Linked DNA regions of Homo sapiens. The protein of the gene in region 1 interacts with the protein of each later gene in a pairwise test. Each region holds a gene or a part of one and is shown on either strand. Other genes may lie near its edges.

The links.
Region 2: the proteins of NDRG1 (region 1) and CSTPP1 interact in binary tests that used the Homo sapiens proteins (3 or more experiments, as listed by UniProt).

What each region holds. Positions count from the first base shown.
Region 1 is NC_000008.11:133,248,843-133,261,162, reverse strand, and holds part of NDRG1 (protein NDRG1), read left to right. Parts: intron 1-1,932; coding exon 1,933-1,995; intron 1,996-2,736; coding exon 2,737-2,797; intron 2,798-4,299; coding exon 4,300-4,386; coding exon of another isoform or gene 4,387-4,437; intron 4,438-6,567; coding exon 6,568-6,624; intron 6,625-10,619; coding exon 10,620-10,723; intron 10,724-12,320. UniProt on the Homo sapiens protein: Stress-responsive protein involved in hormone responses, cell growth, and differentiation. Acts as a tumor suppressor in many cell types. Necessary but not sufficient for p53/TP53-mediated caspase activation and apoptosis.
Region 2 is NC_000011.10:46,978,889-46,991,208, forward strand, and holds part of CSTPP1 (centriolar satellite-associated tubulin polyglutamylase complex regulator 1), read left to right. Parts: intron 1-8,319; coding exon 8,320-8,422; intron 8,423-12,320. UniProt on the Homo sapiens protein: Regulator of the tubulin polyglutamylase complex (TPGC) that controls cytoskeletal organization, nuclear shape, and cilium disassembly by balancing microtubule and actin assembly.

The DNA.
Region 1 (12,320 bases):
CTGCACTCCAGCCTGGGTGACAGAGCAAGACTCTGTCTCCAAAAAAGAAAAAAAGGTTGCACAGCTGATGACTGGGGAGTTGGCTTTGATCCTATCTACTGAGACGTGTATCCTCTTTGGAACATCAGGCTGCCTTAGTTGAGAGTATTTGCACTGCCTGGCCCTTGTCAGCTCGTGATCTGTATGGGCATGGCCTTTCAATTTCCCCTTGTGCAATTATGGTCAAGCTTGTTGGATCCCCCAATCAGCATCATGTGGGGGTGGCAGACCTCAGAGATAACCCCTCTTGTCCCTGCACCTGACCTGTGTTTAAACTAGGGCAGGAGCAGGTTCTTGGGCTTAAAGTCTTCCAGAAGGGGCCTTCTTGGCATTTATAAATAGATATCCTTTTTTATTAGTGTTCAGAATTATCCTTAATAATTAACCTTTATCAGAGAGGAAGGGAAGGGACAGCCAACCGTATGGGGCCAGGACCAAAAATTAAAAGTGTATTAAAACAGTGGGACGTGGTTAATTGTTAACCAGCAGATAAAGCCAGAGGTGTGTCCGTAAATCTTTGGTTGGACCAGTTGTGTGAAAGACTTGGGGGAAAGCAGAGACTCTTAGTTCCCCCTGGTGAAGTTTTACAAATATTCTGAGGCCTGAGCCCCACCCCCAGGAATTTTTATTCCGTTGGTCTGGGTATTACAGCGCATTTTCCCCCTAGTTTACTATGTGGTTTTCGTGTGCATCTGGTGGGACCCACTGTCAGAGTGGGACCTGACTTGTTTCTTCCTCCTGGAGTAGGGCAGAGGAGAGTGTGGGGCTTGGGAGGGGTGAGGGAGCATCTCCCAGGCCCTTTAAGGGTGAGCCCCCTGTATTCTGAAGCCGAGACAGCAGAGCAGGGTAGGGGATCCCTGGCTGGGCTCCTCCTGGCCCCGGTGTCCACCACCTACACAGGAGGGACCTTGGAAGTAGAATTCTGCTGCTTCCTCGCCTCACACCAGCCCTGGGGAACAGGGAAGAAACAGAGGGCCCTGCAATTAAGTGGCTTCTCCAGTGTCACACCTTAGGAGCTGCTGGCTCCAAATTGAGCCATGGCCATTTCAGAGGAGCTTCATGTCTTTGCCGCACTTCTGCCCTGCGGCTTCTCAGCTCAGTGGCTCTGTTGATGTGGAGCCACACCATACGGGCTCTTTCTGGCTCTTCCCAGGGCGTCCGCATACACTGCTTCCCTGCCCACACGCTTTACTCATCAGGTTCCCATGACCCCTTCAGCGTCACTTCTTCCAAGAAGCCCTCCCTGATCATCTGAGCACGGCAGGTCTCTGTTTCGATAGGCTTTGTTATGAGTAACACCCCCTGTTTCTGTTGACTCGAGGGCTGGCTCCTGTCCTGGTTTGCATCTGCTTTGCTCACAGACCCCTGCCATTGCCTCACCAAGAGCCCGGCATGTGTGAGGATCAATCACTGCTTTGCGGATGGAACTCATTCATGCCTGTTTTAATTCCTTCTCCCTGACATTGGAATTGTGAAATGCCTTCTAGTCAGTTTCTGCAACACCCTAGACCCAAAACCAGACAAACACAGTGAGGACATGTTTCTGGCTAACCATCTACTGCTCTTGTGAGGCCAAGTGTCTCATCTCTCAGCCTCAGTGATGTTTATAATCTTGCTATGAGGGGAAATCCTAGCAGCCTCCTAGAGTTATTGTGAAAATTGAATGAGCTAATTCCCAGAATGTGTCCATGGGACCTGGAGCGTAGGAAGCAATTGATAGAGTGTGCTGCAGGGGTCTTGGAAGGAGGATGCGAAGGGACTAGACTTGGGGGTGGGGGGGTCTGGGTGCATGGGGCAGGCTGCTGCATGGTCCCCACCCTTCAAGCGTGTCCCTGTTTGGATTACCCGTTTCTGTCCGGGCGCTCACTAATGGCTTCTCTGTGTCATCCCCAGGTACATGTACCCCTCCATGGATCAGCTGGCTGAAATGCTTCCTGGAGTCCTTCAACAGTTTGGGTAAGAGCGAAGGATCAGCTCCTTCTCTGTCTGCAGAGAAGCCTGGTTTCTAGCATCTTCCTGCCCCTTGGCTTTGATCTGGACTGACCACTAAAATTAAGGTTGCAATTTAGAGATGAGGCAAGAAATTAGCTCGTCACTCTGTGAACACTGTTCTTCACACAGTCTCTGAGCTCTAGTCTGTCTCCTCTAACTTCAGTTTTCCTCTTGCGTGAATGTTATATTGCATGATGGCAGCTGCCCCACCCATTTGCTCTTGCCTCCTGTTCTTCCATTCCCTTCTCTTTCCCATGGAATGTTCTGGAATGGAGTTGCCTGAGTCCTTAGCTTTTCTCTCCACACCCTCATTTTTCCAGTGTTCCTCTCTGTCTTGAGCTCTTCAAAGAATGATAACTTCATGGTTCTTGCTCAATTTGTTTTCATTCCAAGTTTTAGAATCCAAAATAAAGCTTAAGAGTGGGAAGAAATGATGCCGTAACGGGCCTTCCCGTAAATGTCAGACGGTCTCTCAGAGCCTGGGTGGCGGCCAGGAGGGAAGTGAGGAGAAGGGGCGCGGCTCTCCAAGGTCGAGGTCTCTGTCCAGTCCTAAAGCATGGTGACCTCAGAGCTGTGCAGGCAGTTACGGCAGCATGCTCCCGCATTGCCTAGCCAGGCGGTCACCCTCAGGAAGTTCTAAGTGGGTCCTTGGAGGCTCCCGTCACTCTGTCCTTGTGTGACATGCATTTGTATTTTTGCTTCCAGGCTGAAAAGCATTATTGGCATGGGAACAGGAGCAGGCGCCTACATCCTAACTCGATTTGCTGTGAGTGCTTTGGCATTTTTTGAAAATCGCATTTTAAATAACATTTTAAGATGAAGGAAGACATTGGAAAAGCATCAAAAACCCAAAAGGGAAAAAGAAATGACCCGTATTCTCCACAGTTGTGTGTGTGTGTGTGTGTGGTGCATGGGTACTCGTATATATATATACTCACAGCCTTTTCTCTTCCTCCACTCAAGGATGATACTGGACACATTCCTTTGTCATGGGCTTTGTCCGCTTAGCCATCTAGTGAGGACGCTCCTCACTCACTGAGTACTCTGCTATGACACTGCTTTGTAACAGCTGTACAGGTTTTTGTAGTCAGGGCACTCCTGGGTCATAACTGATTCTAAACTAGAATCAGACACGGGAAGTTTTCATGACAGTTGTCATTGTTATTTCTCTGGGCTCAGGTCAAGAGCCACTGTTCCTTTGTATCCTCACCGAGCAATTGTGTAAGAATGCAACAATACTCATTTTGTACATCCATTGGTATTTTGACTACCTATTATTTGCTGGGCTTTGCTGGAGGTTGGGAATACTGACATGATTCTACAACATCCATCTTACAAAAAAAAGAAAGGAATGCTGACATGAATACAAAATGGTCTGGCCATATAGGCTCTCAGCAAATTAAAAATGGTCTCAACTGTACCCCAGGTGTACATATCTATATCTGTATGTATCTGCATCACATAATGACATTTTGGTCAATGACAGACTGCACATTTGACAGTGGTTCCATAAGATTATAATGGTTCATTTTTACTGTACCATTTTTATGTTTAGATTTGCTTAGATACATCAATACTTAGCATTGTGTTGCAATTCCCTGCAGTATTGGGTAGCGTCATATGCTGTACAGGTTTGTACAGCAAACCTAGGAGCAAAGGGCTGTTCTATACAGCCTTGGTGAGTTGTAGACTATACTGTCTAGGTGTGTGTAAGTATACTCTGAGATCTTCACACAATGACAAAATCTCCTAATGATGAATTTTCTCAGAAAGTATCCCTGTTATTCAGCGATGCATAACTCTGTCTCTCTCTCTGTGTGTGTGTGTGTGTGTGTGTGTGTGTGTGTGTATGCATGTGTTTATCCTGGAAGTAAGTAATACAGTTGTTACTGCCACAACTAGAGAGCATTTGTGCTGTGCGCCTTGTTTGATTGATGAGGTCGATGGTGTGTTACACCCATTTGATAGCTGGAGAAGCTGAGCCTCCGTGGGTTGAAGTGACTTGCCCAAGGCAGGCCTGCAAAGCAGCGGGCTTCCTACTTCTCCTGCACTTCCTCTTTCTCCTTCCCACTCTCTCTAGGACCCGATACCGTGTCTGCTGTGCTGGAACCTCAGTTTTGCATGGGGTGGGGCCGGGGAGCAGCAGCCTGCTCTGCTGCCCACACTGCCTTTTTCTGGGTACTTCTCTCAAGCTTTGGTTTGCCTTGGAAAGTTCCTAGTGTTTCAGATTGCTGGGATGTCTGTCTCACTTTGTGTCTTGAATTGCAGCTAAACAACCCTGAGATGGTGGAGGGCCTTGTCCTTATCAACGTGAACCCTTGTGCGGAAGGCTGGATGGACTGGGCCGCCTCCAAGGTGAGGTGGGGGCCTGTCAGGCCGGCGGGATCCCTGCAAGAAGAGGGACAGGTGCACACAGCCTCTGCCTGGGGGATCCCTGGAGCTACGAGCTCTCTCTTTACCCACTCCTCCACTACCCTCTACTGCCCACTCCAGTTCCCTCTGCTTTACTTAGAACAGTACACATGACCTCAGCCGTTTGCCATTCAGAAGACTTAAATACCACCAAGCTGTCTAAGCCAGGGAAAGCACTGGGACACAGGTCCCTGAGGCAGCTTGGAGAAGCATTGCTTGGATTAATGAGTATTAGCTGGGTACATAACTTGTGCCAGGCTTTGGTCAAGATGCTGAGCATCTTGAAGAACAAGACTTCTTGAGATGAACAAGACAAAAGCCTCTAGGAATGAATCTTAGGAATCCATTCACATATTATTAAAGAAAAATAAATATGTATTTAGTACGGACTGTGCCACAGAATTTTACGATAATAATTAGCTAACGTAGATTGAGAGTTTACCATGTGCTAGTTTCATTCTACGTTGCTGTGTGTGCATGATCTCAGTTAATCTTCATAGTAACTCTAGGAGGTGAGAATTTTTATCACCGTTTCAGAGGTAAGGACTCGGTGTGGCTAAGGGGATTGTCCAGGGTCACATAAAGCTAGGCAGTAGAACGGGGACTGGATGCAGCTTGCTTTGACTTTGTGGTTCGTGGACCTGACCACCCGTGCCCCTGGGGCTCCTGTCCAGGGTGGGAGACAGGCAGGCCTGGCAAGCAGGGTAGGCTGCCTGGAGGAGAAGGGACCTGTGCTGTCTTGGGAAGCTCTGTCCTGGCTGGTGTCCTAAGGTTCCTTGTTTATCTTTTAAAAATTATCATTGTGGTGTTTTTGTTTTTGTTTTTTTCCCTGTAAAGGCCTCAGTGTTGGCCAAGGAGAGGGGGAGGTCATTCCAGTTGAAATAGGACAGAGTCTTTCAAGCTGAGGTGATCGCAGCTTCTCATTCTGCAAGTGCATTTTTGCCCAATTTTGGGTGGCTGCCAGGGACCGATGGTTTGAAGGGGCCCTGCCTCTTGCCCCATCCCCTGCCCTGTACCAGCCACTGTGATTTTGCATTTGTTCTTTGAACATTCCTCCAGAATGCAGGAGCCCTTCCGTCCAGCCTGTATGACGTTCTGGAGTGGAACACACTCCCTGTTTTTTATTTGATTTTCCAGCAAAGGAAGTGACATTCCAGTCAACCCGCTGGGCTTCATGATAGCTGTCCTGAGTGAGACTCGAAGGTCTGGGGATGTCGACCACTGGCTAATGTGAAGCCTGAGGATTGTCTTTAATAGCTGTACTATTCCCTTCAGTACAGCTTTAATAGCTGTACTATTCCCTTCTTTTTCAACTCCAGCCTTTCGATTACCAGGCATTGGTATTAGATACTGTGATGTGTGCAGTTACTTCTTGCAGTCCTTCCCTTGACCTTGTGGCCTTGAAGTTCCTGGCACTCCCAGTTCCAGATTAGAAGTCTGAGACCCAGAGGTATGCAGACTGCCCAGTGCCACACAGCTAGGCTGTGGCAGGCAAGGGCCAGCCAAAGACCCTTAGGTCTAGAGCTTCTCTCCTACTCATTTTTGCCTAATGCTTAGGTCAGCACACATTTATGGAGCTTCTGCTGTATACTAGGACTTATAGAGCTCCTGCTGCAAACCTAGTCACTGGGGAGAGGTAGGAAAAGAAGATTGTCAGTGTCTTTGGTAATATCAGTATACTTAGAAAGGGGAAACTGGCTTGGAGATGAGAGAGGAGGGATAGTTGGGAGCCAAGCATATCTTGGGGTATAGACTGGGGAGCTCAGTGTGTTTTTAGAAGAGGTGAATGGATGGCCCTCTTTGCTGAGGACTTGGTGAATGTTTGGAGCAGGGTAAGCTAGCAGTAGCTGGGTCTTTATTCAGCACTTATTTGCTGTGCATCTTGTGCATGGGCCTCTGAAAATAAGGAACTGGATATAGTCCCAGGCCCTGCATTTGGGGGATCAGGTCCAGGAGGGAACTGGAGACAGGAACTGAGTTTCTATCAAGGGGGATGTCCTTGAGGCCTGCATGTAGGGGGGAGTCCAGCAATGCCACCCTGCACCCAGGGAAGTGGGGTTTTGCTGACCTTGTTAACTACTGTTAGCTCCTGGTTTCTCATCCACCCACTTTACTCCTTTCCAGATCTCAGGATGGACCCAAGCTCTGCCGGACATGGTGGTGTCCCACCTTTTTGGGAAGGTGAGTTGCGTGGTCTGGCAAATCTGTTGTTCCTGCTGAGCAAGGCATTGTGTGGTGCTCAGCACAGGGCCCCATGTGGGGGTGGAGAGAACAAGACACAATCAACTGGGGGCCACCGAGCTGGTGCTCATGAGATAATGTGACATTATTCATTCATAAGCAACAAGTCATTCATTCTCTCTCTTTTTTATGTGTCTTTTAAAAACAGCTGATTGAAGTACAATTAACTGCACATATTTAAAGTGTACAATTGACATGCATATACATTTGTAAAACCATCCCTGTAATCAGGAGAATAACGTCTCCATCACTCCAAGAGTTTCCTTGTGCCCCTTGATAGTCCTCCTCTCCCTCCTCCTCAGGCAACTTCTGATCAGCATTGGCCTCTATAGATTGCTTTGCAATTCCTAGAATTTTATATAAATGGCATTATATAGTAGGTACTCTTTTTTTTTTTTTTTTGGTCTGGCTTCTTTCCCTCAGCATAACCATTTTGAGATTTGTCCATGTTAATGAGTGGATCAATAGTTTATTCCTAGTCGGGGTGCAGTGCTCATTCCTATAATCCCAGCACTTTGGGAGGCCATGGCAGGAGGATTGCTTGAGCCCAGGAGTTCAAGACCAGCCTGGGCAACATAGTGACACCTTGTCTCTACAGAAAAATTAAAAATTGGCCAGGCATGGTGGTTCTGCATGCCTATAGTCCTAGCTACTTGGGAGGCTGAGGCAGGAGGATTGCTTGAGCCCAGGAGTTTGAGGCTACAGTGAGCAGTGAGCTGGGATAGCCCACTGTATTCCGCCTAGGTGACAGAGAGACCCTGTCTCTTAAAAAAAAGTTTATTCCTTTTTAGTGCTGAGAAGTATTCCATTTTATGTATGTGCAACAGTTTGTTTTTCCATTCACCTGTTGATAAGACCTTTGAGTTGTTCCCAGTTCTGGGCTGTTATAAATCTGGTCAGTAGCAAACATGTCCGTGGAGTTAGCTGTGTGCTGGGCTGGGCTCAGTCCTAAGAGCTTCACAAGTGTTAACTATAGGAATAGGATTCCACCCAGGTGCTCTGTGACCTGTGTGATAAATTCTGTTCTCATTCCCAGTTTATGGAAGAGGAAACAGACCAGAGAGGTTGAGTGACTTGCATAGGGTCTCAACCAGGGAGAGGTGGGGCCGGTATTAGAACCTATGAATCTGGCTTCATTCTGGTCACCACAGCAGGATGGCGGCTGCCTGTGCTGCTGCCTGGCTCTGAGATGAGCTGCTCTTCTGCAGAGTTACCCCACTAAAGGGGATTGAGCCAAGCCCCTCACAGCATGCTAGAAGTGAGCAGTCATCTTATCAGCCCAGCCTGCCTGGCCCCAGACACTGGTTTTGTGTCTCTAGCTGGGGCCAGCTACCCTCGGGAAGGGTATGCCATGGGCTTGGTTGCAAGCCCAGGGTCTGGAAAACCCCTTGGTTGCCTGAAATTGCAGTGACCTGCTTTGCTTACATACCACTGTCTGCTTCTGAGCTAACATGTGTGACCATCTGACACTCCCATGAGTCCTGGGGACACAGCCTCCACTCTGGAGCTGGCGAGTACACCAGGGGAACAGACGCCCCACTCTGGAGTTGACGAGTGTACCAGGGGAATAGAGGCCCCACTCTGGAGTTGACGAGTGTACGAGGGCAATAGAGGCCCCACTCTGGAGTTGGCGAGTGTACGAGGGGAATAGAGTCCCCACTCTGGAGTTGGCGAGTGTACGAGGGGAATAGAGCCTCCACTCTGGAGCTGGTGAGTGTACGAGGGAAACAGAGGCCCCACTCTGGAGCTGGCGAGTGTACGAGGGGAATAGAGGCCCCACTCTGGAGTTGGCAAGTGTACCAGGGGAACAGAGGCCCCACTCTGGAGTTGGCGAGTGTACGAGGGAAACAGAGGCCCCACTCCGGAGTTGGCGAGTGTACGAGGGAAACAGAGGCCCCACTCCGGAGTTGGCGAGTGTACCAGGGGAACAGAGACCCCACTCTGGAGTTGGCGAGTGTACCAGGGGAACAGAGGCTCCACTCTGGAGTTGGCGAGTACAACTGCTAGGTTTGCCTGTTGTGTTGGTTTCCTGTGGCTTCTGTAACAAATTACCACAAACAGGATGGCTTAGAACAGCGAAAGTGGGATGAGCAGGGTGGCTCACACCTATAATCCCAGCACTTTGGGAGGCTTAGGCGAGTGGATCACCTGAGGTCAGGAGTTCGAGACGAGCCTGGCCAACATGGTGAAACCCCGTCTCTACTGAAAATACAAAATTAACCGGATGTGGTGGCACGCGCCTGTAATCCCAGCTACTCGGGAGGCTGAGACAGGAGAATCACTTGAACCTGGGAGGCAGAGGCTGCAGTGAGCCGAGATCGCGCCATGCACTGCAGCCTGGGTGAGACAGAGGGAGACTCTGTCTCAAAAACAGAGAAAAAGGAAAACAAAAGTGTATTCTCTCACAGCTCTGAGTCTAGAACTCCGATGTCAAGCGCTGGCAGGGCCGCCCCTCCGCCACAGGCTCCAGGGGAAATTCGTCCTTGCTTCTTACTGCTCCAGGTCGCTGTCGGCATTCCTTGGCTAGTGGCTGCTCACACCACTCTCTGCCTCTGTCTTCACATGGTCTTCTCCTCTGTGTCTGTTTTATTTCTCCCTCTCCTTCCTCTTTTAAGGATACTTTCCATTGGATTTCATCCCGGCTCATGTAATCCAGGATTATCTCATCTCAAGATCCTTAATTAATTACACCTGCAAAAACCCTTTTTCCCAGCAAGTTTGCATTCCCAAGTTCAAGAGATTTGACATGGACATATCTTTTGAGGGCCACAGTTTAGCCCACTAGAGTCCTCTTTCCCCTTTTACGATTCATTCCACAGCGTGTGACACATTTTCCCTGTCCTGAGTGTGTAATCTGAAACTGATAGGAATTGGGAAAAATTCACAGCCACTGTCTCTGTTTCACTGGAGGAGGGATGTCAGACATAGCGTTGAGCATCTGATCTGATTATACCCCAAGTTATTTGGAGACTGGTTGGTCCGGCCATGGTGTCTGAGGGTACCCCCAGATCGCTATAGTTGGTTTTGATCTGAAATCCCAGCGTGATTCCTGACTATTTTTTCCAGAGTTTGCTCTTAGTAGCCAGTTGACCTCCTTGCTGCCTAAATGATCCTGGACTGTTTGATGCAGCTCAAGCTTGACACCGGCTTTCTTTGACCCCCAACTCCAACTTCTCATCTGGTTGCCACTGGTCATATCAGACCCTTGTGTGAAACCTACAGTGTCTGCCCTCGTACAAATGAGAAACAGAGCAAACAAGTTGTTTGTCGCAAATAACATTCAAAAAGCACCCAGAGACGGGGAGGCTGAGGCCGACTTCCCCAAGGCTCTGGTTGGCCGTGGTGGGAGTTGCAATTGCCCTTCTTTTCAGTAACTTCCTGTGGCATGAGTTGATTTTGCTTTTCAAGCATGAAAAACTTCTTTTCAGCTCTTCCCATTGGAAAACAATTACTAACATTTGCCTCCAATTTTTACTGTTAGTAGAGGTGAGAACACAACCTCCATTAAGTCCTACAACCTAGTGAAGTAGGCAACATTCTCTCTCTTCCCTTTTTTTTTTTTTTTTTTTTAAGAGATCTGAGGCTCAGAGAGGTTGAAAGATTTGCCTACGAAAGGGACAGTGATGAAGCTAAGCTCTAGATCCAGGATGTCTGACTTCAAATTGAAACTCCCAAAGTAATGAGTTTGGAAGGGTGGGGTGTGGCCTTTCCAGGATGGGGGTCTTTTCTGCTCCCAGCGGATAGTGAAACCCCTGTCTGCACCTGGTTGGGCGTGTTGCTTTCCCAAAGGTTTTTTTTTTAGGTCCGTCGCTGTCTTGTGGATTAGGCATTATTATCTTTACTTTGTCTCCAAATAACCTGGAGAATGGAGAGAGTAGTGACCAGCTCAGGGCCACAGTGCGATGAGGACCATCTTCTCACCTCTCTAAATGCAGGAAGAAATGCAGAGTAACGTGGAAGTGGTCCACACCTACCGCCAGCACATTGTGAATGACATGAACCCCGGCAACCTGCACCTGTTCATCAATGCCTACAACAGGTATTGGGATGTAGTTCAGCCACATCATTGCTATTTATGAGGTGTCTTCTGTAGATCCGAAATGTGGGACAGATGAGAGGGAGAGTATAAAATGAGCGGAAGAGGCAGGCTCTGAGTTTGAGCAAATAGATTAATAGGACAGGTGTCCCCAGGAAGGACACCTGGCCTGTAAGCTGGTTCCTGGCATTCAGCTCGCCTTGCAGGGATCTGAACAAACACTCCAGACCACTGGGGGTGCAGACGTGAGAGGGACGCAGTCGCACACTCAGAGGGTTGAGAGTAAATATGTGTGCCCGCTGCTGACCTTCACGAAAGGCCAAATGTAAGAAGAGCTAAGTGAGAGAGCAGCAAAGCACTCCTGGAGGCCGGGGATAATCCAGGCAGGCTTCTGGGAGTTTGTCATTCCAAGGATAAGGAGGACCTGAACATGGCCTTTGCCTAAGGCGTGGCCCTCTCAACCAGCACTAGGTGCTTATCTGGAGCTCAGCTAGGGGAGGAGACAGCTCAGGGCCATTGGTGTCAGCCAGAGACTCTGTAATCTTCCAGGGAGCTCGCTCAACCTGCTGAGCTCGCTCTGCCACGCTCGCAGAACAGGAGATAGAAATGAGCCTCATAGTGTTTATCTCTGCTCAAATGTTAATAAAGTGACTTCTTGAAATTAACATTTGTAACAGAGCTTAGTATCTGCCTCCTTTTACAATCCTGCCCTCATCTCAGTGGTAACATCCTCACTGTGGATGTGACTGAAGAAACCGAAACCTGGCAGTGCGGTTCACTTAGTAAACACTTTCTGAGAACTGGAGCGAGTCAGGCATTCGGCTGGGCGCTGGAGACACAGAGGAAACCAGCACAGCCCGCAGACTCCACACTGTTAACTTGCCCGTGTAGATAGCACCGTAATTAACTGACCCCTCTCCAAATCCCACTGTGAAGGTCCTGGAATTACTGTCATTTCCTGTTGAGGAAGCAAAGGCGCAAAGAGATCCTGTGTTCTCCCCAAGGCCACACAGCTAGAAAGTGGCAGAGCATGATTTGGATCCTGCTTGTCTAACTCCAGGCTGTGAGCTGGGAAAGAGCTTCTCATGTTGGGAGCTGCAAGATAGCAGAGAGGGTGGGTGGCTGCGTGCAGGAAAGGTGGTCGGCACTGGGCTGGACCCACACTGGGCCTCACACGAGTGCAGTGGGAAACCACCACAGGGTTTGAGACAGGGAATGGAAAGATGAGGCCTGAGTTTTAAAGAGATCATTTGGGTGCTTTATAGAGGACTCAGAGTTGGTGAGGCTGGGACTTAAACTAAGAGGCTGCGAGAGCATTTGGGAGGTGGCCCCTCTGTCAGGTGGGGGCTCTGACTAGGGGGACAGGGAAGGCGGGGACCCTCTATGGTGGAGAATCTGACTTCTACTCCTGGAAAAAAAAGCCCCACAAATATTTGTGACAAAATGAGGGGGCTCTGCTTGAAATGCATGTGTTGTGCTGTCCCTCTAACCAGGTCTGTGGACACCAAGAGGGTGTGGAGTCCTGAAAGCCACAGGGCCTCTCTCAAGTTGGGGATGTGGGTAGCTTACCAGAATGGCCACTGGCAGGACCTCCTGGGCT
Region 2 (12,320 bases), on another chromosome or scaffold:
ATTAGAAAAAATGAGATCCTGTTACTGTTAGTTCAGTTGTGAATGCCAACTAATTTTTATGTAATATTTTTAATGTAAAATGCCAAGCAAATGATTAAGCTGTTGTATTAGTATCTTATTGCATTAATATCACTATTCTGTATATTCATAGTTAAATTGCATATTACCAATTAATATTAATCTGTAAATTTAATGATAATTGATAAATACATGGTTTGCCCCCAAAGGCTATACTTTTTCTTTTTTTTAAAGAGACAGGAGTCCTACTATGTTGGTCTTGAACTCCTGGGCTCAAGGGATCATCCTGCCTCAGCCTCCTGAGTAACTGGGACCATAGGCATGCATCACCATGCCCGGCTGCAAGACTACAACTCGTGCTATAGCACAATTAATTTTCACCTTGTAATTTTATTACTTCCCTGTTTGAAAACATGAGTGGCATATGATTTACTACATGTTTAGCAATTTACAGGATTTTTTTTTTACCCATGATACTTTCTGGAAAATAGTTATGTGAATGTTTATGGCGTTGACTTGATAACTATACTGCTTTATTAGTAACTATTTTTGCAAAGTTATTGCCATGACAAATATTACTTGGGTTCTTCATATGTCCCTTAGATTGTAACTGTGGGAAACTTAAGTGCTACTTTAGATTTCTCTGGTGTTCAGGAAGTACATTTTGTTATGGTCAGCTAGCTGAGTGCTTTAAGTTTGAACTATGAAAATCTCCTTAAAAAAAAAAAGGACGCGGTGGCTTATGCCTGTAATCGCAGCACTTTGGGAGGCCAAGGCAGGCGGATCACCTGAGGTCAAGAGTTTGAGACCAGCCTGGCCAACATGGTGAAACCCTGTCTCTACTAAAAGTACAAAAATTAGCTGAGCATGGTGGCGGGCGCCTGTAATCCCACCTACTCAGGAGGCTGAGGCAGGAGAATCGCTTGAACCCTGGAGGTGGAGGTTGCAGTGAGCCGCGATCACGCCACTACACTCCAGCCTGGGTGACAACAGCGAGACTCTGACTTAAAATAAAAAAGATTCTGTAGTTTCTGGCACTTGAAATTGCAGGACTCCAACCTACAAATGCTGTATTATTATGAGATTTAGGCTGGAAATACTGAGGCAGTAGGATTTAAGCACTTACCCTTAATTGACATCCCAAAACTATATATAAAACAAACAAACAAACAAAAAAACAAAAAAACCCACCAGTTTTAGGAAAGAGAAGGGAAGAGGGGAGGATTAATGGTTGACCAGAGACTGTTTTGAGTGTCAAGGCACTCAGCTTTTCACAGCTATTAACCAGTACAATACCCCTTTTGGTTGAGGGAAATAGACTTTAGTTTTTCATCCTCTACTTAACATAAAGATCTTTAGACACCTCTTGTTTTCTGGTTGTCACAGGTGATGTTAGCATATGTGTAATGCTTTGTTTGCCTCTGGCGTGTCTTTTAGTATTTGAGTTTGACTAGCCGTATAGCAGGACTTTAGTGGTTTGGATGCATAGATGCAATGTATTGCTTTTGTCTGTTTTATAATTAACAATTATAAAATAAAAGGTCATTCCTTAATTTGCAAATTTGTTCTCAGAAAGTTCTGTTTGATACATGTCATACTGCATGGCTCTTTAAAGGTGGCAGTATCATGCAGTACAGACTGGAATATAGGATAATAGGCTTATACACTTGGAGTAGAGAAGGCCTTTTTGAATAGGACACAAAGCACACCAAAAAAAAGCCACAGATACATTATTTTGACTGTATCAACACTTAAAACTTCTGTAAAATGAAAGATACCACAGACAAGTTAAAAGAAGACCATGAAGTAGATGTATGTATTTGTGACATGTATAGAATTATCTACAAGTCAAGAAGAAGAAAAAAAGACAACCAGAGAAGAAAATTGGCAAAGGATAAGAAATACAAATAAACATGAAAATGTGCTTAACTTTATTTGTAATCAAGAAAAGTAAAATTAAAACAACAGAGAAAAGCTATTTTCTAACTATTAAATCGGCAAAATTAAAAAGCATTAGGCCAAGGATAGTGAAAATAGATACTCATACAGCTGGTGGTGTGTAAATTGGAATAACTAATTTGTAAAAGCAATTGTCTATCTCTGGTAAACATGAAGATATCCTGTGCATCCTATGAAATGCCAATTCCATCTTGAGGAATCTACCTTAGAAAAACTCTTGCACATATATACAAGGAAACACGTACAAGAATGTTCAACACAGCCCAGTTTATTATAGTGAAAACATGGAAACAACCTAAATGTTTATCAGTAGGGAAATATTTACCATTGGGAACTATCAAAAAGGTAAGTAGGTTCCATATTGTTTTATAAAAGATCTCCAGACATTGTTGATTAAAAAAAAAAAAGATGCAGAAAGGATATATCAGACACTTAAAAACAACTTAAAACATGAAAACAGAACAAGCTCACAAACTATATTTCTGTATTTTTGAAAATATGTACCCCAAACTGATAATAGTTGTTATCTATGGGAACTGGAATTAGTCTTTAGCTTTATCTGTATTGTTTGAACCTTTAAAAATTATTGTGTGTTTAACTAGAAATAAACATTTTTAAAAATTTAAAGATCATACCAGTACTTTGATTTACCAATTTAAGCTTCTTAATACTATAAAGTATTAACAGGGAAGAGCCAGCAATTTCTAGATAATACAACGTAAGATGGGGCACTTTGTAGGTTTTTGGATTTTTCTTGTTTTGCTTTCATTTTTGGTTTTGAGAGGTAGTGGGGTGAATGGAAGAATACGGGCTTTGGAGTCAAATCTAAGTTTGAATCCAAGCTCTGCCATTTATTTAGACTTTGGGCAGGTTTCTTAACCTCTCTAGTTTTTAAAAAAATTGCTATTACCTACTTCGTTGGGTTGTATAAGAATTACATGTGCTAGATTTCCTCATTTCCCCATTCCCTTTGGTTAAGGGAAATTGGTCTAGTGTGGTCTAAGATCAAAGATGGTCTCGTATGGATGACAAAATGTTTCACAAGAACACACTATATCCTTGGACCAGGATATACCAGTAAAGATGGAGGATGTAAATAATAAATTTTAGAGGTCTATTAACTGTTTAAACCATTAAGCTATCTATTTGTACCTCACAAGATCAAATACTAGATTATGTTAGTGATTTATAAATGATATTGAACTTGAAACTTCTAAGCAGTTTACATGACAGGTTGTTGATTAACAGGTTTACTTTTTTTTTTAAATCTCAGAGAACATTTTAATTTAGTTCAGCAAACATTTATTTGTGCCATCCAGCATCTCAATCTCAAGAGGCCTCATAGACCAAAATATGTCTCAAAAGGAAGAAAGGAAAACTCTATGTATTTATCAATTTATTTATCAAACTCTGGCAAGGGGGGAAAAAGTCAGGTTTAAAGTTGAGTATATGTATATACTCTGCTTTTCACTTGTACTGCTATTGCCTATGTGTGCATCTGTTAATATCATATATAGCAATTCATATGAAGATTTTTTCCAGTGAGACTTAGTTATTCTATTATTGGGACTCTGTATTAAATAATAATTTTTAAAAAAGAGTGCTCTAACTAATGTTAAGGTGGAAATTCTAGACCCCTCAAACAAAAATTTCCAAATAGGACCCCTTATCATTTAATTGTGAAATAAACAACTAATGCTTTTATGGTATTTATGCTTGGGAAGAGAATAAAATAAATAGTTTTGGATTTTCCCCATATAAATTAGGGCCTGCTGAGTAATTAGCAGTTAATAAGTGAATGCTTCCTACAAGTTTAAAGGTCATACCTGAAATGGGTATATGATGATGTATATTTTTATAGTTATAGATTTTATATAGCCCAAGAATCCTTGAAGATAGTCTAAACATCTTGGTTTGATGAGCAGAACTTTCAATAAGGGGGTAAGGGGCTAATATTGTTTGAGCACTTACTATGTGCCAAGCACTATTCTAAGATGATTACATAGATTATTTTATTTAATCTTCACCACAGTCTTCTGTGGTAGGTACTAGTATTGCCCAATTTTATAGAAAAGGGCAGAGAGATAAGGTAACTTATATGAAGTTACACAGTCAGTAAATGACAGAGCTAGAAATCATATCCAGGTTCAGTTGGCTCAAGAACCCATATTCTTAACCATTGCAGTAAAAATTGTTATGCTGTTTTAATCTGTAGAGTCAGCATGTAGCAATAATAATATAATCATTAACATGTTACATTTTGCATATATTGAATGCTTTCTAAAGAAGTAGTTTATTATCAGACATATTCTTAGAATCATACCCATTTTATAGCAGGATTGACAGTGTTATAAAGAGATTACGTGATCAACATGGGGTGAGTCAACAGAACCAAGAAGTTTCTGATCCACAATTGCCTTCACTTGCTAGGTTCAAGTAAGGATCATATAGTGTTTACTTACATTTGCCTTAGATTTTTCAGTATAGCATGATGAAATTCTAAATGCTTATCTCAGACAGTGATGCTATCTGAGCAAGACATGGACAATTGGGCATTAGTGTGAATTTTAGGACACTAGAGCGTAGGTACAGGTTAGAAAACTTAATCCTCATCTTGTGGAAGTCATGGCAAAGCCAAAGAGGAAAAGCCTGTCTTAAATGCTTTTCCTTTTCCAAGGGGCAGCTAAGGTGCCCAGATATCTTTGCCCTCCAGGGATGCAGGTGTGCTGTTTTTTATTCTTTAATCATTCACATAAATTAAAGCCTATTCCTTTGCATTAAAAAAAATGTAAAATGACACTCTCCGTGTTTTATTGCCAGGCAAGAGCTTTGAACTTCTGTCTCATTGAAGTTTGATAAACTAAGGATTTTCCCGTGTTGGGTGGTACCCTTAACCACAGAGGGAGCATTAGACTGATAAGAGCTGCAGGTGAAGGAAACCACCAGGGCACGGCAATTAGGGAGAGCTTCGCACTTGGCTGTTGGCTGGTGTAAAACTCTCTGCAGGGAGGAACTTTTCTTCTTAGCTTCTTCCCTTCACCCACACGTAAAAAGAACACCAGGGCTTTCTATTTCTACTTTGCGAACTAGGAATGGATGGGATGGTTCTTTTCAAGAAACTTTCAAATTTAGGGACAAGTTCTAACTTCACACAAATGCTGATTGGTATGAAGGTGGGGGGACAGGACAGACAGACATACACACACATAAATTCACGTGGACCCAAATGGACCATATCTCTCAGGTGATTTTACTATCAACATACATTCCTGCCTTTGTGCACTGTGTAAAATAAAGATAATTTTTACTTCCATAACTGATTATAAAGTGTTAATGGTGAGGCAACGTGTTAAGAGAATGGGTTCTTGTATCAGGTAAACCTTGGTTCAAATCTTGGCTTCTCTTCCCACTAGCTGTGTAAATTAATTTTGTAAGTCTCAGTTCTCCCACTTGTAAAAATAGAAGTCTAAGAATAACTATTATAGGATTGTATTTGGAAGAAATAGAATAAAGCATGTGAAACAATTAGTACAGTACTATATCTGTCACATTGTTGTTTAATAAATTGTGCAAGTACTCAAAAATGGTAGCTGTTATTATTTGTAATATGAAACTAAATATCTGATTGGTAGATTAATGTTAAACATGCATGGTCCAATATATTTCTTTCTTTCCTTTTTTATATTTTTGGTATAAAGTCTATTTTCTTGAAAATTCCTGCTTTTTTTTTCTAGAAGGACAAAAGTACTTTGATTTTTACTGCTCTGAAAATATTTATCCCGTAAAAAGCTTTCACATTAACTTTGAGTCCCTGGAGCTAGGGAGGAGAAGCAGCAGGATTTGCTACTAAGTAGAGCTCTTTCATTTCTACCATCAAAAAGAAAAAAAAAAAAAATCCTGTGCTAGCCTTAGGTAGAGCTAAGTCATAAAAGGCCATATAGCCTAAGGAAGGACTCTTTTTATAAGATCAGGATAAACCGATAGAAGAAAGGAAGGAGAACACAGAGGTGAAAATGCAGCTGATTTTAATGTTTCCCTGGCCATTTTCCCTCCCAATTTAATATACACCTAATTATAATTATTATATTTTGAAAACAATACCAGAAATTGGCAGGTATTATCTCACAGCTTCACTCTTAGTTTTGGCCGTTTCTTAAAGAAACAGTTTTCTAGTTGGATGAACTGTTGAGTTGAGGCACTGATTTTGTTTTCACCTCTTTTTGGGTGGGGTTGGGGGTGGGCAGTCAGGGTTTGCAGTGGTTTATAGTTGTTAGTTTTGGGAAGCACTCATTTAGATAGAATGAGTCACAGAATGTAAACAGGTCATCCATCTGGACTTTAGGCTGCTGGGAACGTGGTGAAACCTTAGGTCACCGCGATCATTATGGTCAAATGAAGACTTTTGGGCTCAGGTTGGCAGGTAAACTTACTTGTTTTATGAGCTTCACTAGACTACCAGGACTTCAGAAATAGTTTTTTGAAATACCAATATTTATAAATTTTAGGTAATTCCATCATATTTTCCTGAGGAATGAAACTGTGAAAGAAGTAAATGTCTACTTTGGCAGCAACTTCATAGAATTGCTTTTTGGAAGGATATTCATCACTTTGGGGTTTTTTGTTCTCACTGCTCCAGATGAAAGTATTTTTCTGAATTTTTTATGGTAAATGTGGACACTGAATTGGAAGCTTCTATGTAAAGTTTGTCAGGAAACCTCTGTCATACCTAAGGATAAAATTCAGAGAAAGGGAAGAAGTATTTGAGTACCTGACATCTAAGAAGTTCTGGCCTATGTTGTTTACTGAGTAAACTCCCAATAATGCTTTGAGACAGGCTTTTAAGGAAACATGTTATCAATCACGTACTATGTACCAAACACATAGTGGTGTTTTACCTGTATTATCTTATTTATTTCTCATAACCCTATAATGTAAGTACCATTATTATCCCCATTTTACCATGAAGAATAGGCTTGAAGAATAATTTGTTTATGGTCACATAACTAGGAAGTGGCAGAGCTGAGAATGGAGCTCTCAACTCTCTGTAATCCAAAGCCCAGGTTCTTAACCAGTGATTCTTAAACTTAAGAGTACATAAGAAGCATCAGGAGTACTTGTTAAAAATTACTGGGCTGTAGTAAAAAATGTAAGGTCACTAAATCTGGGACAGTGCCAGACTATAAATCTGCGTTTTAAACGGCATCCCAGGGGATTCAGATCAAGAAATTGATTGACCATATTTTGAGAAACATAGTTAAATTATATTGCTTTTCACACTTGATAAAGAAGAAAACAGGTGTAGACTAAGTAACTATCCAAGATTAAGCTACCAAGACAGAGCCATGATTCAAACTCAGGTCTGTCTCACTCTAATACTCATACTTTTTATTATACGCCCATGATTAACTCACACATTTCCAAGTCACAACAAATGCAGAAAACATGACATCTAATAAACCAAGCCAGATAGATTTCATGGTCTTGTTATTTACCAAAGTTAATAACTTATATATACACCAGTACGAAAATTTTCATGGTCCTTAAACCTTTCCAGTGACTTTTTTTTTTTTTTTCTAATTTAAATTAACTGAGTTTTCTTTTTTTTCTGTTCTGAAATGAAGTCTGGCTCTGTCGCCCAGGCTGGAGTGCAATGGCATGATCTTGGCTCACTGCAACCTCCACCTCCCAGGTTCAAGCAATTCCCCTGCCGCAGCTTCCTGAGTAGCTGGGATTACTAGCTACTCAGGAAGTAGCCACTGCATCTGGCTAATTTTTGTATTATTGGTAGAGACAGGTTTTCACCATGTTGCCAAGCTGGTCTCGAACTCCTGACCTCAAGTGATCCACCCGCCTCAGCCTCCCAAAATGCTGGGATTACAGGCCTGAGCCACTGTGCCTGGCCAGAGTTTTCTTTACAATCATACCATCCATGCTTCAAGCATGGAATTACTAACTCCCTGGGATAAGTTTCTGATGCAGAAATGGAAAAGAATAGAAGGAGGTAGAAAGAAAAGAACTTCCAGGTGTATCTGCTGAATGGTGCTAAATCTCCTCTTCAACCCACCCTTGTGATTGAGATGAAGAATGAAGGGTTGATGCTAATACTAACAGCCAGTCAAATGGCAATTGGTCATGTTCACATCATCTCCCAATCTATCCTTTGAGACTATAGCTCAGTTAGGGTCAGCAAGTTTGCTTTGCCTATTCCAGTCCACTGATGAAGTGTCATCAGACAGAGCCAACACCTGGATTGCCTTACACATGACCTCCTACTAGGATTGGGATCATTCTTTTTAAAATCTTTCTCTCATTTTCTCTTTCTCTCTTGCTATTTGATTGCAGCTCAGCGACATGTCCTCACCTACATGGAGGATGCAGTGTGCCAGCTGCTAGAAAACAGGGAAGATATTAGCCAATATGGAATTGCCAGGTTCTTCACTGAATAGTAAGTACATGAATGTTGTACTAATACAGTGAACCCAGAGGAGGCGCTTGGAAGCAGGCAGGATACTTGAGGAACAGAGCAGGACAATGCTGATTAGGTAGTGGCAGTGAATGTTTAGTTTTGGTAGGTTGGTTGTGGGCCGCCCAAACATGTTTTGGAGCATGCCTTTGGTGCAGCTAGTTTGTCCAGTGATGTCTCATGAATAGTTTTGATTACAGTAGCTTAACAACTGCTTGTTTGATCTATTAGATCTATTTCTGTAGGTTTCTCTTTTAACTTTCTCCTTTATTCAAAATATTCACTTTGATTTCCTTTCGCTGATGTTCATCTAGCCTGTTTTTTTTCATGGCTGGCTTTTCTCATGGAATCTAGGCTAATGTTCCTCTGCAGTTTTCTTTCTACAGGATGCTGTGCCAATCACTTAATGATTTAAGTGTATTTCTAATCAGCAAAGTGAAGAGACAACCCACAGAATGGGAGAAAGTATTTGCAAACTACCCATCTGACAAGGGATTAATAACCAGAATATATAAGGAGCTCAAATATCTCTATAGGAAAACATCCAATAATCCCATCAAAAAATGGACAAAAGATGTGCATAGACACTTCTCAAAACAAGACATACAAATGGCAAACAGGCATAAGCAAAGGTGCTCAACATCATTGATCATCAGAGAAATGCAAATCAAAACTACAATGAGATAACATCTCACCCCAGTTACAATGGCTTGTATCCTAAAGACAGGCAATAACAAATGCTGGCGAGGATGTGGAGAAAGGGAACCCTTCTACACTGTTGATGGGGATGTAAATTAGTATAACCACTGTGGAGAACAGTTTGGAGGTTCCTCAAAAAACTAGGAATAGGGCTGCCATATGATCCAGCAATTCAACTGCTGGGTATATACCCAAAAGAAAGGAAATTAGTGTATCGAATAAATATCAGTACTCCTATGTTTGTTACAGCACTGTTTAGAGTACTAAGATTTGGAAGCAATCTAAGTGTCCATCAACAGATGAATGGGTAAAGAAAATGTGGTACATATACACAATGGAGTATTATTTGGCCCTAAGAAAGAATGAGATCCTGTCATTTGCAACAACATGAATGGAACTGAAGATCATTATGTTAAGTGAAATAAGCCAGGCACAGAAAGACAAACATTGGATGTTCTCACTTGTTTGTGGGATGTAAAAATCAAAACAATTAAACTCATGGACAAAGAGAATAGAAGGATGGTTACCAGAGATTGGGAAGGGTAGCAGGGGGCTGGGGGAAGAGGTGGGGATGGTTGATGGTTACAAAAAAGAAAAAAAAGAATGAAAAAGACCTGCTATTTGATAGCACAACAGGGTGACTCTAGTCAATGATAACTTAATTGTTCATTTTAAAATAACTCAAAGGGTACATTTAGATTGTTTGTAACACAAAGGAAAAATGCTTGATGGGGTGGATACCCTATTCTCCATGATATGATTAGTTAACATTGCATGTCTGTATCAAAACATATTATGTGCCCTAAAAATATATACACCTACTATGTACCCATGAAAATTAGAACTTAAAAAAATTTTTTAAAGGAATATTTCTAGAGGGAGGATATCTTTCATAGATTATATATTTGAAAGGTCATACCTAGGCCAGGCATGGTGGCTCAAACCCGTAATCCCAGCACTTTGGGAGGCTGAGGTGGGCAGATCATGAGGTCAGGAGTTGGAGACCAGCCTGACCAACATGTTGAAACCCCATCTCTACTAAAAATACAAAAATCAGCCAGGCATGGTGGCACGCACCTGTAATCCCAGCTACTAGGGAGGCTGAGGCAGGAGAATCGCTTGAACCCAGTAGGCAGAGGTGGCAGTGAGCCAAGATGGTGCCACTGCACTCCAGCCTGGCCAACAGAGAGAGACTCCGTCTCAAAAAAAAAAACAGGTCATACTTCTTTATAAAGTATACTTAGAATGTGTAAAAGTCAAAATGATTACTACCTTTTTTATTTTTCTGAGATAGAATTTTACTCTGTTGTTAAGGCTGGAGTACAGTGGCATCATCATGGCTCATTGTAGCCTTGAACTCCTGGGTTCAAGGAATCCTCCTGCCTCAGCCTCCCCAGTAGCTGGGACTACAGGTATGTACTATCATGCTCAGCTAAATTTAAAATTTATCTTTTGTAGAGACAGGGTTTCAGTATGTTGACCAGGCTGGTTTTGAACTGCAGGCCTCAAGTAATCCTCTCACCTTGGCCTCTCAAAGTGTTGGGATTGTAGGCATGAGCCACCATGCCCAACTGATTACCACTTTTTGAATATCACAGAACTGTTTTTAGGCTGAATGAGATAAACACTTTAAAAACACATTAATATTCTTTTTCTTCCAACTTTTATTTTAGATACAGGGAATACATGTGCAGGTTTGTTACATGGGTACATTGCACCCAGGTAGTGAGCATAGTACCCAATAGGTAGTTTTTGACCCATTACCCCTCTCCCTTCTCCCCTCTAGCAGTCCACAGTGTCTGTTGCTCCCATGTTCATGTCCATGAATGCTCAATGTTTAGCTCCCACTTATAAGTGAGAACATGTGGTATTTGGTTTTCTGTACCTACATTAATTCACTTAGGATTATGGCCTCTAGCTCCATCCATGTTGCTACAAAGGACATGATTTCATTCTTTTTTATGGCTGCATAGTACTCCATGGTATATATGTACCATATTTTCTTTATCCAGTTCACCTTGATGGGCACCTAGGTTGACTCCATGTCTTTGCTATTGTGAATAGTGCAGCAATGAATGTACGAGTGCATGGGGAGAATGATGTATTTTCCTTTGGCATACCCACTAATGAATGGGACTGCTGAGTCAAATTGTAGCTCTGTTTTAAGTTCTTTGAGAAATCTCCAAACTCATTTCCACAGTAGCTGAATTAATTTACATTCCCACCAACAGTGTATAAGCATCCTCTTTTCTCAGCAGCCTTGCCAGCATCTGTGTTTTTTCTTTTTTGACTTTTTAATAATAGTCATTCTGACTGGCATGAGATGGTATCTCACTGTGGTTTTGATTTGCATTTCTCTGATGATGAGTGATAATGAGCATTTTTTCATATGTTTCTTGGCCACTTATATATCTTCTTTTGAGAAAATGTCTGTTCATGTCCTTTGACCATTTTTAAATGGGGTTATTTCGTTTTTGCTTCTTAAGTTCCTTATAGATTCTGGATATTAGACCTTTGTTGGATGCATAGTTTGTGAATATTTTTTCCCATTCTGTAGGTTGTCTATTGATAGTTTCTTTTGCTGTGCAGAAGCTTTTTAGTTTAATTAGGTCCCACTTGTCAGTTTTTGTTTTTGTTGCAATTGCTTTTGGGGACTTGGCCAAGAATTATTTGCCAAGGCTGATGTTGAGAAGGATATTTCCTAGGTTTTCTTCTAGGATTTTTATAGTTTGAGATCTTACATTTAAATCTTTAATCTATCTTGAATTAATTTTTGTATATAGTGAAAGGTAAGGGTCCAGTTTCATTCTTCTGCATATGGCTAGCCAGTTATCCCAGCACCATTTATTAAACAGGGAGTCCTTTCCCCAGTGCTTGTTTTTGTCAGCCTTGTCAAAGATAAGATTGTTTTAAGTGTGTGCTTTATTTTTGAGTTTTCTGTACTTTCCATTGGTCTATGTTTCTGTTTTTGTACCGGTACCATGCAAAACGCAATCTTCATGAAAGGATGTGCTAGAGAAATACATATGCCATCACATATTTATATAATCGTTTGGATTCTCTTTCCTTTTCTTCTGGTTTTTGGGAACATTCTAAGAAAGGAAGAGTAATCCTTATAGGCTTCCATTTAAGTGAATCTTGAACTCAAGTTCATCTTTCTTGAACATAGTTTTTTTTTTTT